Linked DNA regions of Homo sapiens: region 2 is linked to region 1. The links come from fine-mapping of genetic effects on gene expression. Tissue or cell type: whole blood. Region 1 holds a variant in brackets; the other region holds the start of a gene. All regions are shown on one strand. Distances are between the middles of the regions.

The links. PIP is the estimated chance that this variant, and not a neighbour inherited with it, causes the effect.
Region 2: it holds the start of MYOF, and the variant in region 1 is fine-mapped to the expression of MYOF in whole blood (TOPMed, PIP above 0.99).

What each region holds. Positions count from the first base shown.
Region 1 is chr10:93,437,164-93,445,269 of GRCh38, reverse strand. The region is part of intron 3 of MYOF (myoferlin); the gene reads left to right. Among named protein-coding and RNA genes, the nearest start is that of MYOF, 41 kb to the left of the region's middle. RefSeq lists enhancers at 7,724-8,018, 7,167-8,106. The variant C/T (reference allele first, on the strand shown) is at 3,455.
Region 2 is chr10:93,478,712-93,486,802 of GRCh38, reverse strand. It overlaps MYOF (myoferlin), which reads left to right and starts at 4,469. Exons shown (of 54, transcript NM_013451.4): 1 at 4,469-4,696. The coding sequence starts at 4,609.

The DNA.
Region 1 (8,106 bases):
CAAGGTCACACAGCAGGTGTGTGTTAGAGTCAGCTCATCTATATCCAGGCCTGTACACTTGACTTTTATGTTATACTGAAAGCCTCTGACTACCTATAGTAAACAAAATGTAGGTAGAATGATCAATTATCTCTGCTGAAATAGAAGTGATTTTTCTTCCTAATTTTGACAAAAAAAAATTTAATTCTCAATATCAGTGTATTGCTACCTTTTATAAGCTCCACCCTAGGTAAAAATTTTAAGCATTTTTATACTGTTGAGTAGGAAGTCACTTATGCCTATATTCTGCAATGGACCAGATATATGAAGAGACTATATCTCATCTCATTTGCTCTTCACAGTGACCTTGAGAAGTAGAGAGTAGACTTGAGCCTCAGAGGGGTGGAGGCTGGGACCCTGATCTGTTGGCATCCTGGCCCTACCCTTGAGTTCCTAAAAGTGCCATCTTCAAGAACCTGTACATGTAGAAATAAAAGATATTGACAAGTTTTCAGATTTGTGTGTCTGTGTGTATGCACACGTGGACACACATGCCCAGGAGAAAAAAGAGGTACTGCGTAGAGTTTTTGCATTTGCTGTTCCCTTTGCGTGGAATGCTCCTTCCCTCAAACTGCAATAGATGTAAAATCTTGTCATTGGGCCTCACCATGTCTGATCATCCAGCCTAGAGCAGCCCCTCCCTGTCACTCTTTATCTTATTACTCTGTTTTATTCTTCCAAAGCCCTTCTTATTAGGGAGCTCATGTGAGTGTAAGAATGGGAAAAGGAGTCTGTGTGAGCAAATACATGCTAGAATTGTGTTTTAGACAAGTACTCAGGGTATGTGCTGGTCCACACACCTGCTATATGTAGCTCAGCATTCACCACCATCTGAAATGTTCTTTTCTATTTACTTATTCATTTGTTCTCTCTCTACTGGATAGTAAACTCCATGTCACTCTTGTTCAATGCCGTAAGACCAGCACTTAGCACAGTGCCTGGCATATAGTAGGCTCTAAATAAACGTTTGTTGGATGAATGAGTGAACAAGTGAGTTTATGATGCTCCTACGTGGATGACATTTACCATTTAAGAAGCACCTTGCAGCTGTCCTGTCAGCTCACTGGTAATGGGCCACCAGTGTGGAATCTGTCCACCTCGGCTCTCTGAAACAGCACCCTAGTTCCAACTTGGGTTTAAGCTGCAAAGGGGTCAGGATACAAAGGTCAGAACACAAGAGAAACAAACCTCTCTCACAAAGCTCATGCCATTTTGTAGAGAGATGTGGAACTCAAGGCTGAGCTCACAGGAAGGCAGGAGAGCATGGTATTTGAAAGTTGGGATTCTGGAGCCAGGCAGAAGCCGATTAGAGACCCAGCTCTACTGATTACTAGTGGGTGACCTGGGCAAGTTACTTACCCTCTCCAGGCCTCAGAATTCTCATCCTTAAATTGACTGTAGTTTGGAATTGACTGTAGTTCCGTTATGCTAAGGGATTAGATTTACCCTCCCACCTGACACAACTAAAACAAAATACATGCAACAGTAGTTTTCAGATGTTGGACTTTGCTGGCACAGAACAGTGATCTCTAAGAGATGGGAGATAAATGAGGTGAGCCCTGAGAGTTCCCAGCTTAATGCCTAGAGAGACTCATTTCCATGCTGCAATGCAAGAAAAGGGATCCTTGTTGTCTCCCAGAGTTGGAGAGGTGCAGGTGGGAGTCTAGAGATGCCAAGGTTAGTCTAAAGATGCCAAGGTTACTAGTGGACCAAGAGGAGAGAAACACAGACACACACACACACACACACACACACACAGAGAGAGAGAGAGAGAGAGAGAAGAAAGAGGAGAGAAGAGAGAGGAGAGACAGAGAGAGCACTTCAGAGACTTGCAGAGAATTCCCCTTGAATCTTCAGCTGAGAACTGAGTGAGGAAACTGCTTGAGGCAGGACTAGAAAGAGTTTATGTTCCCGCCAACCGGGGGAAACACCTTGTAATTCATAGGGAAGGATTTTGCCTCCCTAATGTAGGTAGAAAACAATCAATAGAAACTGACCCAGAAATGGCACACAATCAGTAGACATGGACAGTAAAACAAGTATTATAATTCTTTAAAAAAAATTTTTTGTGAGACAGAGTCTCACTCTGTTGCCCATGCTGGAGTGCAGTGGCACGATCTCAGCTTACTGCAACCTCCGCCTCCGGGTTCAAGTGATTCTCCTACCTCAGCCTCTGGAGTAGCTGGAATTACAGGCACACGCCACCATGCCCAGCTAATTTATGTATTTTTTTTACCAGAGACGGGGTTTCACCATTTTGGCCAGGCTGGTCTCGAACTCCTGGCCTCATGTGACCCGCCCCCCTCGGCCTCCCAAAGTACTGGGATTACAGGCATAAGCCACCGTGCCCCGCTGAGTGTTGGAATTCTATTCTATAGATTCAAGAAGGTGGAGAATTGCTTGAGCATGCTAGTAGGGACATGGAAGATAATTTAAAAAAATTAACTTGGACTGCTAGAGATGACAATTACAATGTCTGAAATAAAGTGACCATAATTATCTGTCTCAGAATTTGCATGTCTAGTATTCTTTCTGCCCTCCAAATACATGTACTTGTGCATGCAAAACCACCATTATATATACTTCCACACCAATGCAGAACAAAGTTAGAAACAGTTTCTGAATATAAATCTCAAGCAAGGCATCTGTTTTGCCGTATTGTAGGAAGGAGATAACAAAAAGGCCTGACAATATACCTAGAAGGAAATGTATTCCAGTTCTTGTGTAAGAGGTGTGGGCATGTGGCCAGCTGTACAATCATGAGATTAGACAGAACTTTGGTTTTGCTTCTTGTTGGTTGGGTGACTCTTGGCAAATTTCTTAATCTTTATAATGGGGACTGTGATACTTCCTCAATAAATAGTAGATATAGGGCAAATTTGATATAATTAAGAAAAAATTACTTCAATTTCCTGATGAACAACAAAATAGCTAATTCTTTTCTTCTAGGTTTACTGTGTGTCAGGGACGATGTTAAAACTGTTTCAGTTACAATCGCATTTAATCCTTATATCAACTATGAGTCCGTCAGACAGTCTGATCTTCAACTCACAGATGAGAAAAATGTGGCTGAAAGAGGTTCATTAAATTGTAAAAGGTCACTCAGCTCTTTAAGTGGAAGCATGTGGATTTTACATAGGTATGTTAAAATCCTCTTACACAGAGCCCAGACTTTCCAAGGTTTATTCTGTGTGTGTGTGTGTGTGTGTGTGTGTGTGTGTGTGTGTGTGTGTTCAGGTTGAGGGCCAGGGTGCTAAAACTTGAAAGTGAGAGGTTGTTCGGGGGAATATAGAATTAAAGGAAAAGGATATAGAATTAAATAAAAAAAGGAAAAGACCTAGCTTACGTTGTGAAATGTACTAACTCTCGGCCGGGCACGGTGACTCACGCCTGTAATTCTAGCACTTTGGGAGGC[C/T]GAGGCAGGTGGATCACGAGGTCAGGAGTTCGAGACCAGCCTGGCCAACATGGGCAAACCCCCGTCTCTACTAAAAATACAAATATTAGCTGCGTGTGGTGGCAAGCGCCTGTAATCCCAGCTACTCGGGAGGCTGAGGTAGGAGAATCGCTTGAATGCAGAAGGCAGAGGTTGCAGTGAGCCGAGACCGTGCCATTGCACTCCGGCCTGGGTGACAGAGTGAGACTCTGTCTCAAAAAAAAAAAAAAAAAAAAGATACAAAAATTAGCCAGGCATGGTGGCGGGCACCTGTAATCCCAGCTACTCCAGAGACTGAGGCAGGAGAATCGCTTGAATTCAAGAGGTGGAGCTTGCAATGAGCTGAGATTGCACCACTGCACTCCAGCCTGGGCAACGGCGTGAGACTCCGTCTCCAAAAAAAAAAAGAAATGTACTAACTCCCTAGCTTGTTTTAAATTAGAAAAAACAAAAGACTGCGTTTGGAATAAAATTAATTTGGTAGGGCAAAGTGTGGTATTGCTTATAAGACGTTTTTCATTCCCTAGTATATGAAATACCTTGTCTTTAAGCTTTTATTACTTTTATTTCTCCTAGTTATAAAGCTCATTTCTGACCTTGCCCCATGTAAATGTGACAGTGGGAGAAGGTGGTCTTTCTTCTCCTGGGGTTGGTTGGTGAGGAAGGATAGGATAGCCCATGGATTGAAACAGGTTCTTCTCACTGGAGTAGCTTCTCAGGCTGTACAAAAATCTAAACTAGAAGCAGATGTTACTGTGGGGCAGAACTCTCAGTTCTGATTTCTTTTTAGTTCTGTATTAGAGCAATGACACTGAAATGATCTGAGCTGGTTTGGGCTGGCTGTCTCTATACGGGGAGAGGCTGAACTGCACTTTTTGGAAGGCAGATTAAGTAGCTGCTGCAATCCTGTTGGTATCTGTTAAGATCTTGTGATTAAATAAGATTGGGCCACAGCCCTGGAGAAAGATACCCAGAGAGGCTGAAAGAGAAAGGCATCTCATAAAGGCAAGAGCTGTAATTATCTTCTGATGGCTCTTTGGCGGGTGATCTCTTAGGACAGGAAGATTTACAACCTGTAAATAATTTGCAAGGTCATTGGACTATCTTCAATGATGTATCAGCTAATTTATTCATGCCACAAATATTTACTAATGCCTACTATGTGTCAGACACAGCTCTAGACACTGGGGGTACTCCATACCTTTTATGGAGCTAACATCTGAGTAGAGGGAACAGATAAATACACATATGACATAACAGATGGTGATAAGTGATACGAAGAAAATAAAGGAAGGTAAAGGAGAGAAAACAGCAGGGTGAGGTCTGAGTGGGTGCTGGTTTAGATAGGGTTGTTGTATAAGGGTTTGTTTTGGGGGTTTTTTTTTTCGAGACGGAGTCTTGCTCTGTCGACAGGCTGGAGTGCAGTGGCACAATCCCGGCTCACTGCAACCTCTGCCTCCCGGGTTCAAGTGATTCTTCTGCCCCAGCCTCCCGAGTAGCTAGGACTACAGGCGCCCGCCACCACGCCCGACTAATTTTTTTATTTTTAGTAGAAATGGGGTTTCACCATATTGGCCAGGATGGTCTTGATCTCTTGACCTCGTGATCCACCTGCCTCGGCCTCACAAAGTGCTGGGATTACAGGCATGAGCCACTGCACCCAGCCTGGGGAATCTTTTATAATGGGTTATGAAGTTTACAGACTTCATTCAGATTCCACTAAATTGGATTTTATGAGAATTCAGCTGCAGCTGACATTTACCTCTGGTCTAACTCTGAAAAGAAAAATTGTTTCCCAAAAGGATTTGTGGTATATGTAGTATTAAGGGTGGGGAAGGGCTATTTAATGTAGGTAAGATAAAGAACTGGTTTTAAGAACTTTACATAGTGATTACATAGAAATGGATGTGGGTAGTTACAAAGGGTTCTTATCTATTCATTCATGCCCACCTGCCCAGCCCCCTGCTGATTCAGACCAGCTTTCACTGCCAAGTACTAGCCAGGAGCCCTGTCTTCATATGCTTTTTATACATCTCTTTTTCTAGCATAGTGTCTGAAATAATAATACAAGGTGACTGTTAAGCACTTGCCATATCATCCTTTTAATCCCTGCAACAATACCATTAAGTAGGAGCTGTCATTATCCCCATTTTATAGATGAGGAAACTGAAGCTCGGAGAAGTTAACCTGTACGCAGCCTGAGTCTGAATTAGTCAGGCCTGCCTGCCTCCACGTTCCTAGTCATCAGGCAAAGCTGTCCCTCCTTATCTTACAAGGTTCAAGTTCATGAAAGAGTGAATAAATGGATGGATGAAAAAACTACTACTTTGATTCTAACGGTTGAGGGAATTAACTGGAGACAGAGCATCGGAACTCCACTGAACCATCAGAGCAGGCAGGCAGGCAGGCAGGCACAGAATTGGTCAGGTGAAAATAACAAAATAGCAGGTGACCATTTCTTCAAGAAATAATATTCAGCATCTCCTCCATGCCAGAGGAGTTAGCCTGCTCCTCGCAGCCACAGACTCTGGCCTCAATGCCTCACTGACCCGGAGGGCTTTGGTGAGGAGACCTGGGCTTCCACTCAGCCCTTTGCAGGTGTTACCTGCAAAGGTAACAGTGATACCATAGTGGCCAGAGTTGCAGAGGTGGGAGGGGCTGGGAAAAAGAGCACAGTAGATGCTGGCCACGAAAATCGTGCAAATCCTGCCACAGCCTTCAGGCTATGTCAGTGATTCCAAAACCAGGGCGTGGAGTGAGCTAAAAGTAGAGGCGAGACTTGTGCCAGCCAGGTTTGGGAATCACGGTTGAGGATCAGTGTTTCTACCTTTTAAAAAGCCACACCCCCTTTCGATGAGCAGGAAAAGAGCCGCAAGGTTCTCTGGCAGTCCTGGCCTGGAGTCAGGAGCGGAAGTTCCTGGGGGGAGCGCAGGTCACTAGGCCTTCCTAGGAGGTTTTCATGGAGTTTGCCTGCTACAGTTTGTTCTATTAAATAATTGGACTTCGATGCGTGGTTCTCAAACGTGAGCCTGGATTCCCATGCTGAATGTTTTCAAAACCACTCAAGCCCCCCTCTCCCCAGATCCCGCGTTGCCTTCTGCCTTCCCTATCCCTAGCCCTCTACCTCCTCCACTTTACTCCCACAGCCATTGGGAGTCACTGTCTAGACCATTGTTTCTCGGACTTCCTGGGTATTAAGAATTACCGAAAGGAAAAAGTCGGACTCAGGGATCTGGGAATCTGCAGACGCCCTGGTGAGGGACGTCTGGGGAAGCACATTCTGAGAAATGTTTTGGGAGACGATGCGGAGGCCGAGTGAGGGTGGGCGGGCAAGTGCAAGTGGAGGGGTGAACCGAGGCGCAGCCCTTTGCGGGGATTTTACCTTAGCAATAGTTTCCTGTGATACGAGCTGCTGCCATGGGCGTGTTGAGAAAGAATTATTCAGTGACACCTGGTACAGTATGGGCAGGAAGGCTTCATTCAGGACTGAGTTAGCTCAAGTGACCCCTGCAACGGAGACTCGTGGGAAGGAAGAGAGATGGGGTGCCACTCAGATACAGCATGGGCAAGTAGGAATTGATAGCCAAGGAGGAGTGTGGGGGGTCAGTGGATGGAAAATTCCTAAGAGGAAATGTCACAGTCAGGGGGATTCTGGCTAACCCAACCTAACAGGATTCTTGCTGAGGACATCACGTGGGGGATGGCAGAGAATGAGAAACCCGATCAGATATGGAGGGTGATCAGATCTCACGGATGGGGGTTGTTTGCTAAACTGACCGAGTAGGATTCTCTGCTAACACTGGATTTCATAAGGAAGCACAGGCTTAGGAGGAGGCTCAGGAGCTCCACTCAAGTTTGGCCAAGCAAAGACTCTTTGTCAGCTGACACGGCGTCTCCTACCAGTCTAGTTCACAGGGAGCATCCTTGGCTCTCCTGCCTTTTGGCGGGGGATCAGGGCAGGAGCTTGACAGATACTGGCCCAGGAGAGGGAGAAGTGCTGGGGAGGGAGATGGGGTCCAGCCTTGGAACCCCAGGGCCATAGGCCTGCCAAAATGACAAGGCACGGCCAACTGAGAGCCCCTGCTTCGAGGGTGGGAAGCTCACCATCTTTTTAGGTTTCCTACAGGGGACCTAGGAGCAGCCTGGAATCGTGTTTGTCCCCAGTCAGGTTGGGATTGCTGTTCCTGCTTAGAGGTCGGGAAGTTGAGACCGTGCTGCGATCTCTAGAGGCAGAAACAGTGCAACATGTGATTTATTTCTCAGCCTCCAACACATTTTTTCCTTCCTTCATGAAGGAATTTCCAAGTTACTCCTCCTCCAGAAATCATGTGGGCTGTGTCTCTGCTGCATAGAGGAACAACTTCGTATACGTGAGCTCCCCTGAGTAAGAGTCAGCCGGCAAAGCCCTTACTCACTCCAGAGGCATGCGGCCCTTCACATTTGCGCCGTGCTAAAGGGGAGAACATTTTCCATTTCTCTTTTGTAAACAAACTATACTCTGTCTATTTTAAGAAGAAGAAGAAAGAAGAAAAAAAAAACAGTTTAAGCGGCTCTTAACCAATACTTGCAAGACTAAGTTGACTGGTTTACAATTAAACTCTTTCATTCCCCCAATCATAACATCTCATTTTCAA
Region 2 (8,091 bases), 42 kb before region 1:
ATAACAAGACTCCATCTCAAAAAAAAAAAAAAAAAAACCAAAAAAAAAAACCTCAAAGTTTTAGCAACCTAGGAATAAAGAGAACTCCTTTAATCTTAAAAGGGCTAATTATGAGAAACCTACAGCAAACATCATACTTTATGGTGAAGTATGGAAATCTTTCCCTTTGAAATACAGAAAAAGATAAGGATGTCTGTTATTACCACCCCTAGTCAATATTATAATGAAAGGTCTAATCAACATAGAAATAAATGGGAAAATAAAGTAAGCACAAAGATTGAAAAGGAAGAAACACCCCAGGCGTTATTTGCAGATTCTATAATTGTAATGGTAGAAAATCCATGAGAATTTACTGCTGATTACACTCTCACCAGCGGTGTATGAGACTTCCCGTTGTTCCACATTCTTGTCAAGCTTGGCAATGTTAGATTTTTACATATTTTCCCATCTGGTGAGTATATAATAATAACTCATTGGAGTTTTAATTTGCACTTTTCTAATTACCAATGAGGTTGAGTACCTTTTCATATTTACATTTCCTAATTTATGAAGTGCCTATTCAAATCTTTTACCTATTTTTCCATTGAGTTCTATGTGTTTGTCTTACTAATTTGCTGGAGCTGTTTATGTACTCTGAATACTAGTCCTTTGTAGGTTGTGATTTTAATATAATTGAATTTATCAATATTTCCTTTATGATTTGTACATTTTTTCATATTAAGAAATCCTTTCCTATCCTGGGGTCATATAGATATTCTTCTATGGCTTTTTTTGTTGTTTGATTTTTTTCTTTACTTATTTGTTTTAGAGAGGAGGTCTTGCCATGTTGTCTAGGCTGGATTTCTATTTCTGGCCTCAAGTGATCCTCTTGCCTCAGCTTCCCAAGTAGCTGGGACTACAGGTGTGAGCTGCTGCCACCACCTGGTTAGATTTTTTTTTTTTTTTTTTTAGAGACAGGGTCTCACTCTGTTACCCAGGTTGGAGTATAGTGGCACAATCATGGCTCACTGCCACCAGGACTTCCCAGGCTCAAGTGGTTGTCCCACCTCAGCCTTTCAAGTAGCTGGGACCACAGGTGCATGCCACCACACTCGATTAATTTAAAAAATTTTTTTTAGAGGCAGGGTCTCACTATGTTGCCCAGGCTGGTCTCAGACTCACCTCAGCCTCCCCAAAGTGTTGAGATTACAGGTATGAACCACTGTGTCTGGGCTGAAACATGTTTTATCTTGCTTATTTAGATTTATACTCCACCTGTAATTGATTATGTATTATGTAAGGTTGGAAGTCATTTGTCTTTTTCTCCCACATGAATAGGTAAAAGGCAAATTAAAACTCCAGTGAGATGCTATTATATGCTCACCAGAAGGGCAAATGTAAAAAATCTAACATTGGTTAAGTATGACAAAAATTTAGAACAACAGGAAGTCTCATACACTGCTGGCAAGAGTACCATTGTGGAATATAATTTGGAATTACCTTGTAAAGGTGAAGAAATGCATACATTCTCTGGCCCAGCAAGCAATTCCACCCATAGATTAGACTCTAAATAGACTCATGCACATTTGTGCCAGAACAGTCTTGGACTGTTCAGAACAGCACTGTTTGTAATAGCCCCATTCCCTGAACTGTCCAAATGTCTGGCAGTAGTAGAATGAATTAATCAAATCTGGAGGCCAGGCGCAGTGGCTCATGCCTGTAATCCCAGCACTTTGGGAGGCTGAGGCAGGCGGATCACGAGGTAAAGAGTTCGAGAACATCCTGGCCAACATGGTGACACCCCATCTCTACTAAAGATACAAAAATTAGCCGGGCGTGGTGGTGTGCACCTGTAATCCCAGCTACTCAGGAGGCTGAGGCAGGAGAATTGCTTGAACCCGGGAGGCAGAGGTTGCAGTGAAACGAGATCGCACCACTGCACTCCAGCCTGGGCTACAGAGCAAGACTCTGTCTCAAAATAAATAAATAAATAAAATGTCAGAAACTCATACAATGAAATGCCATATAGCAACAAGAGTGAAGGAAGTAGAGCTACATGAATGAATTTCACAATATAATACTGAGAAAAAAGAAGTCAAACACGAAAGAATCCATTCTGTATGAGTCCATTTCTATAAAGTCATAATACAGCAAAGAATTCACAAAGTATGAACACATGTATGTGTGTACCTATATATATGAATATATGTGTTGTATGTAAAGTTCATAACATACAAAAGAATTTATATCACCAAACAAAGGTCATGAGCAAGCAAACCTAAACTGTTTTGTTGTTGTTGTTTTCGGTAAAAACTACAAAGAAAAGCAAGGAAATCATTACCATAAAAATCAGGAGAGTGGGCCAGGCATGGTGGCTCATGCCTGTAATCCCAGCACTTTGGGAGGCCGAGGTGGATGGATCACCTGAGGTCAGGAGTTTGAGACCAGCCTGGCCAACACGGTGAAACCCTGTCTCTACTAAAAATACAAAATTAGCCGGGTGTGGTAGTGCACGCCTGTAATCCCAGCTACCTGGGAGGCTGAGGCAGGAGAATTGCTTGAACCCGGGAGGTGGAGGTGGCAGTGAGCCGATCACCCCACTTCAATCCAGCCTGGGCAACAAGAGTGAAACTCCATCTAAAAAAAGAAAAAAAAATCAGGAGAGTGGTTACCTCTGGGAGAAGGAGGTGGATATGATATATGGGGTATTCCAGGGGCTTCTGGAGGACTGGCAATGTTCTGTCTTGACCTGGATGCTTGTTAAACTGTCACGTTTATGTAGTATGCATTTTTCTGTAAATATATTTCACAGTAAAAATGGCAAATAGAAAGCAGCCAGATAAAATAAAAGTAATAATCTCTATATTCCACTAAAACTGCCAACATGTCCACTAAATACAATAATGAACACAGCACTGGGTAATTGGTTCTTTGCTTTAAGCCTTGGAGAAACTCGTGGAGACAGAAGAATTCTTGTAGGTTAAGTCATGCTTATTCAATGTACTTGAAATGTTTATTTACAGGTGGGTCTGCTTGATGTGTGTTCTAAAGCAAAAAGAAGCCCAATGTTTCTTCATCCCAAGTTTTAGCCTTTTCTTCTGAAATATAACGAGATCCTGATTTAAAGTCAGCCTGCACTAACAGAAACGCTGTGAGACCACAAATAAGCATGAACTTCTTACATGTGCAAATTACTGTGTGCTTTGTGCCAGCTCCTATGCTATGACCTTTATCTTATAACAGCCTTTATCCCCAGTTCATAGATGAGGAAACTGAGGAAGAGAGGGGTTAAGAAACTTGCTCGCCAGCACGGTGGCTCAAGCCAGTAAAGCTCAAGCCAGTAAAGCTCAAGCCACGGAGGCCGAGGCGGGCGGATCACAAGGTCAAGAGATCGAGACCATCCTTGCCAGCATGGTGAAACCCCGTCTCTACTAAAAATACAAAAAAAAAAAAAATTAGCTGCGTGTGGTGGCGCACGCCTGTAGTCCCAGCTACTCGGGAGACTGAGGCAGGAGAATCGCTTGAACCCGGGAGGCAGAGGTTGCAGTGAGCCAAGATCGCTACACTGCACTCCAGCCTGGTGACAGAGCGAGACTCCGTCAAAAAAAAAAAAGAAAAGAAAAGAAAAGAAAAGAAACTTGCTAAGATGACGTAGCTCAGGGTGGTGAGGCAGAGTCTCACACTCAGATCTGGCTGACTAACCCCAGGCCGCCTCTTGTGATCTCAGCCAAGCTGCACTGTCTTCATGCACCCTCTGGGACAGAAAGACACCATGGGCAGCTGTAGGTCCAGAAACAGTGGGGAGTCACTTCTCCATTTTCACTGAAGGCAATTGGCAGCATTTGAAGAGCCGGGAAAACTTAGGCGCCCAGCTCTCACCTCTGAAGGGGTTTTGAAGAAATTCTATGTTCAGTCCTTTATATATATATATATATATATATATATATATATATATATATATATATATATATATATATAATTATTTATACATATATGTAATTATTTATATATCCCATGCCTGGATCGCGTTTACTTGAAATAAACGCTGTCATTCGTTTGCCGTCCAGTAAGAGGCACCCTTTAGCTGCTTTAAAAAAGCTGAACATAGGGTTACTGAGTGGGTGTGTTCAATGGCGTGAGAAGTAACAGCGAAAAGTCAAAAGCAAATAATGACTAAAGTTTTAAAACTCCTTGAAACTCAGAAAAGAATGAAAGCAGTGACGGAAAAATCAATTAATTCAGTTTCACGAACCATTGCTAAAAGGCAGCAACATTTTAGTGGTTTCCTGACCTACCCGTATTTCTTAGCTCCAAATTCATGTTGGTTTCATTTGTCGCACGGAATTATTTTTAGTTTAGGGTTTGTCCTTTTCACTTCCACATTTCCCGAATTCATAAGTCTGTGCCTGCGGCACTGCGTAGACGCGGGGAGTTCGGTATCAGTTTACACGTTGCCTTCAGTAAAATCCGCCAGAGGTCCACCCATTTTGCCTTTTCCCCTTCCTTGCCCTGGGAGAAATCCTCCCTTCACTGGGAGAGAACTTCTCTCCCAGGGCGGTGCGACCCGGAGCTCCAGCGCCCTAGTCTCCACTTCGTTTGCTGAAACTTGCTTTCTACCAGCTAAGAACCATGCTGCGAGTGATTGTGGAATCTGCCAGCAATATCCCTAAAACGAAATTTGGCAAGCCGGATCCTATTGTTTCTGTCATTTTTAAGGGTAAGAAAAAGTTTTCTTCTTTTTCTGAAGTCCTGTTTTGGAATGTTAGTTTCTTGAGTCACCTTCTTGAAAAGTCTGCATTTAGACAGCTGATGAAGCCAAGTCTCTCCAGCAGCGTTTGTTACCTGCGCAGGACAGGGGAGAGGACCCGTTTCTGGGGAAGGCATTTAATTTTCTCCAGGGCTTGAGACTCATGGAATGACCTGATGTTTTAGCTCTAAGAGTGTGATTTCTGTAAGCTCTTGGCAGAAAACGTATTTGCGAATCACTAAATTTCAGGTATCAACAAACATCTGTATTGGTTCAAAGTAAGTTTCAGTAGTCTTAGATGCATTTTTTCTCTGCCTGTGAGAAATGGGTAAAGGAGGAAGAAGAGCAATTAAATTGTTGGAGACACCATTACTCCTTGAACCAGCCTGACGCTGCTTTGATTGTCACTGGGTTTCTGGGAGGTGGGATGGGTGAAGTTCATAGTTTTATTGAGTTTTCCTGCCCTTTTGTGCCTTTGTAATTGTTTTTATATCTAAACTGTTGGGGAGCTTTTTTTGTACATTCTGTAGCTTTTAAATTGCTCATTGAGGAAAGAACTCTGGACAGCTAGTTTGCAATTTGGGGATCTAGTTCTATCTTGCCTGCTGAATGACCTTGGGCAAGTTACTTCATTTCTCTGGGATCTCAATTTTCTTTTCTGCAAAACAGGCGAGAAGGGTTTAGACAAGATCATCTCTAAAAACCTCATGGTTGGCTGAGCACAGTGGCTCCTCAACCCTGAGCCAACTTTGGGAGGCCAAGGCAGGAGGATTGCTTGAGCCCAGGAGTTTGAGGCTACAGTGAGCCGTGATCACGCCACTGCACTCCAGCCTGGGTGTAAAAATAAATAAAAATAAAAGGCTCATGGTAATTTTAAAAGGCTATTTTTCTATGACACTTGATTGCCATTGCAGGGGAGGGGACAGGAATGCTTGGTGTCATGGTACAATTTGATGTAAGTGACTTAGTTTTGGCTAAAGTGGGGTTTCTAAATCTCAGTGTGGAGGCTTTATCTATTTTGTTTGTCATTGGTAAGACTGCCAACTCACTTCTTGGCAAGAGGGATGGGAAAGAGAGGGAAAGGCAGAGAGAGTGGGAGCATGGATAGACATGTGTTTCCTGACCATGCCTTGCTACATTTCTCGTTTCTTCCAGGAGCCTGACTGCTACTCCCTGTCAGTTCCTGAGGCATCTATACCTTTCGCCTTTCTGTTTCCCGTTTTTCCCCTTTATTTCTCTTCTTAAACCTCTCTCTCTGAGGATGAGCAAGAAAATGAAAGAAATGAAACTCAAAGCTGGCTGGCTGGGTGTGGTGACTTCTGCCTGTAATCCCAGAACTTTGGGAGGCTGAGGTGGGTGGATCACATGAGGGCAGGAGTTCGAGACCAGCCAGGCCAACATGGCAAAACCCCATCTCTACTAAAAATACAAAAATTAGCCGGGCATGGTGGCACATGCCTATAATCCCAGCTACTCGGGAGGCTGAGGCAGGAGGATTGCTTCAACCCAGGAGGAGGAGGTTGCAGTGAGCCGAGATCATGCTACTGCACTCCAACCTGGGCAACAGAGTGAGACTCCGTCTCAAAAAAAAAAAAAAAAAAAAAAAAAAGCTGGCAAATTGTTGGTTGGTTAAAAAAAAAATCTAAAGGGCAAAAATTGGATTTAAAAAAAATTTAAAAAAATTTTTTTGAATAAGACTGGGTCTTGCTATGTTGCCCAGGCTGGTTATAATTCCCTTGCTCAAACTTTCTTCCCATCTCAGCTTCCCAAAGTGTTGGGATTACAGGCGTAAACTACCACGCCCAGCTTAAAATTGGGCTCTTAAAGGACAATGAGGTTTGAAAATCTGGCTAGTGAATATCATGGACTCACGTTATGTCAGAGTTTATTTACATGTGTTAGGTTTTATTAATTTTTTGTTTTCTTGAAGCAGTTACATAATAGAGACATAATATGAAGATTTTACATCCTTCATCATTGACATATAAAGACATTAAAATATATTTGGATCAGTCCGATCATGTAATTATTTAAGTATTATAGATTATAGAGGAATTGGAGTTAATACTATATTGAAATCTGACTTGTTATTTGTCTGGAGTTTGTATGCATTGATGAAACATTTTAAATGATGAAAAATATATCTAAGTCAATGAATGCAAACAATCAATTGAAAGTGGAAAACTTCAGTTAAGTTGGCAAATATAGTCTATACAAACAATTACACATTTAACTTTAGTCTCTTTTCTGGCCTCCTTTTTTCATACAAATCGAGTGGTAAAGTCATTCATTCATTTAGCTAACAAGCAACCTGACAGAGGAAAGGGCACTCAACTCAGAGTAGGAACATCTGCATTCCAGCTGACATTAACTCAATATCTGATTTAACCACCTGGGTCTCCAATTTCTCAGCTGTGGCATGATGGGAACTGGTCTTTAGATGCCTTCCGTCTTTTAGATTCTAATTTTCTAGTTCCAGGTATTGAGTTAGCTGCTCTCAGCAAGATGTGAAATGCATTGCCTTAGGTGCTGGAGGGGATATAGCAACAAACACAGCACTCTTCTTGCTTTCAGTCTATGTCGGTGGTTTAAAATCCTGGTGATGGCAAACCCTTTACAGGTGTGTTCCCAATTTTGAGCACTGCGTAAAATTAAGTAACATTAAGTTCTGACTGAACTGAGGATACTTATAGCAAAATACTGTCCATCAGAGGGAACATGGAACAAAGGCAGACACACTTCATAGTGTGGAGTGGGGCAGGGTATGGTAAACTGGAAAAAGCCCTACCATGCCTGTAGTCCCAGCTACTCAGGAGGCTGAGGCAGGAGAATCACTTGAGCCTGGGAGGCGGAGGTTCCAGTGAGCAGAGATCGCACCACTGCACTCCAGCCTGGGAGATAGAACGAGACTCCATCTCAAAAAAAAAAAAAGGAAAAAGCCATACCAGAAGATCAAGGCGGCATCAAAGAAAGTCCCTGTGTTAACAGAAATATGTAAACATTTTGCCTCTTGGGTAAATAAACAAAGTCAGGGCAGTAAGCAGCTCTTCTCAAACTATAAGACGGTGAAGAATGGCCAGGGGAAGTGATTGTTAATGGTGAAGCTCGCATAGACACTGTGAGGCCCTATTAGGCTATAGCTACACTGTACTTGGGATTGTGCTGTACTGACAACCAACTGGTTTACAGTTGACCTCAGTTTTTCGTGTTCAAACCCTTTCTTTCTTTCTTTCTTTTTTTTTTTTTTTTTTGAGACTGTTTCACCCTGCCATCCAGGAGGGAAGAGTGCAGTCAGTGGTGTGATCATGGTCTCGAACTCCTGGGCTCAAGCGATCCTCCCACCTCAGCCTCCTGAGTAGCTGAAC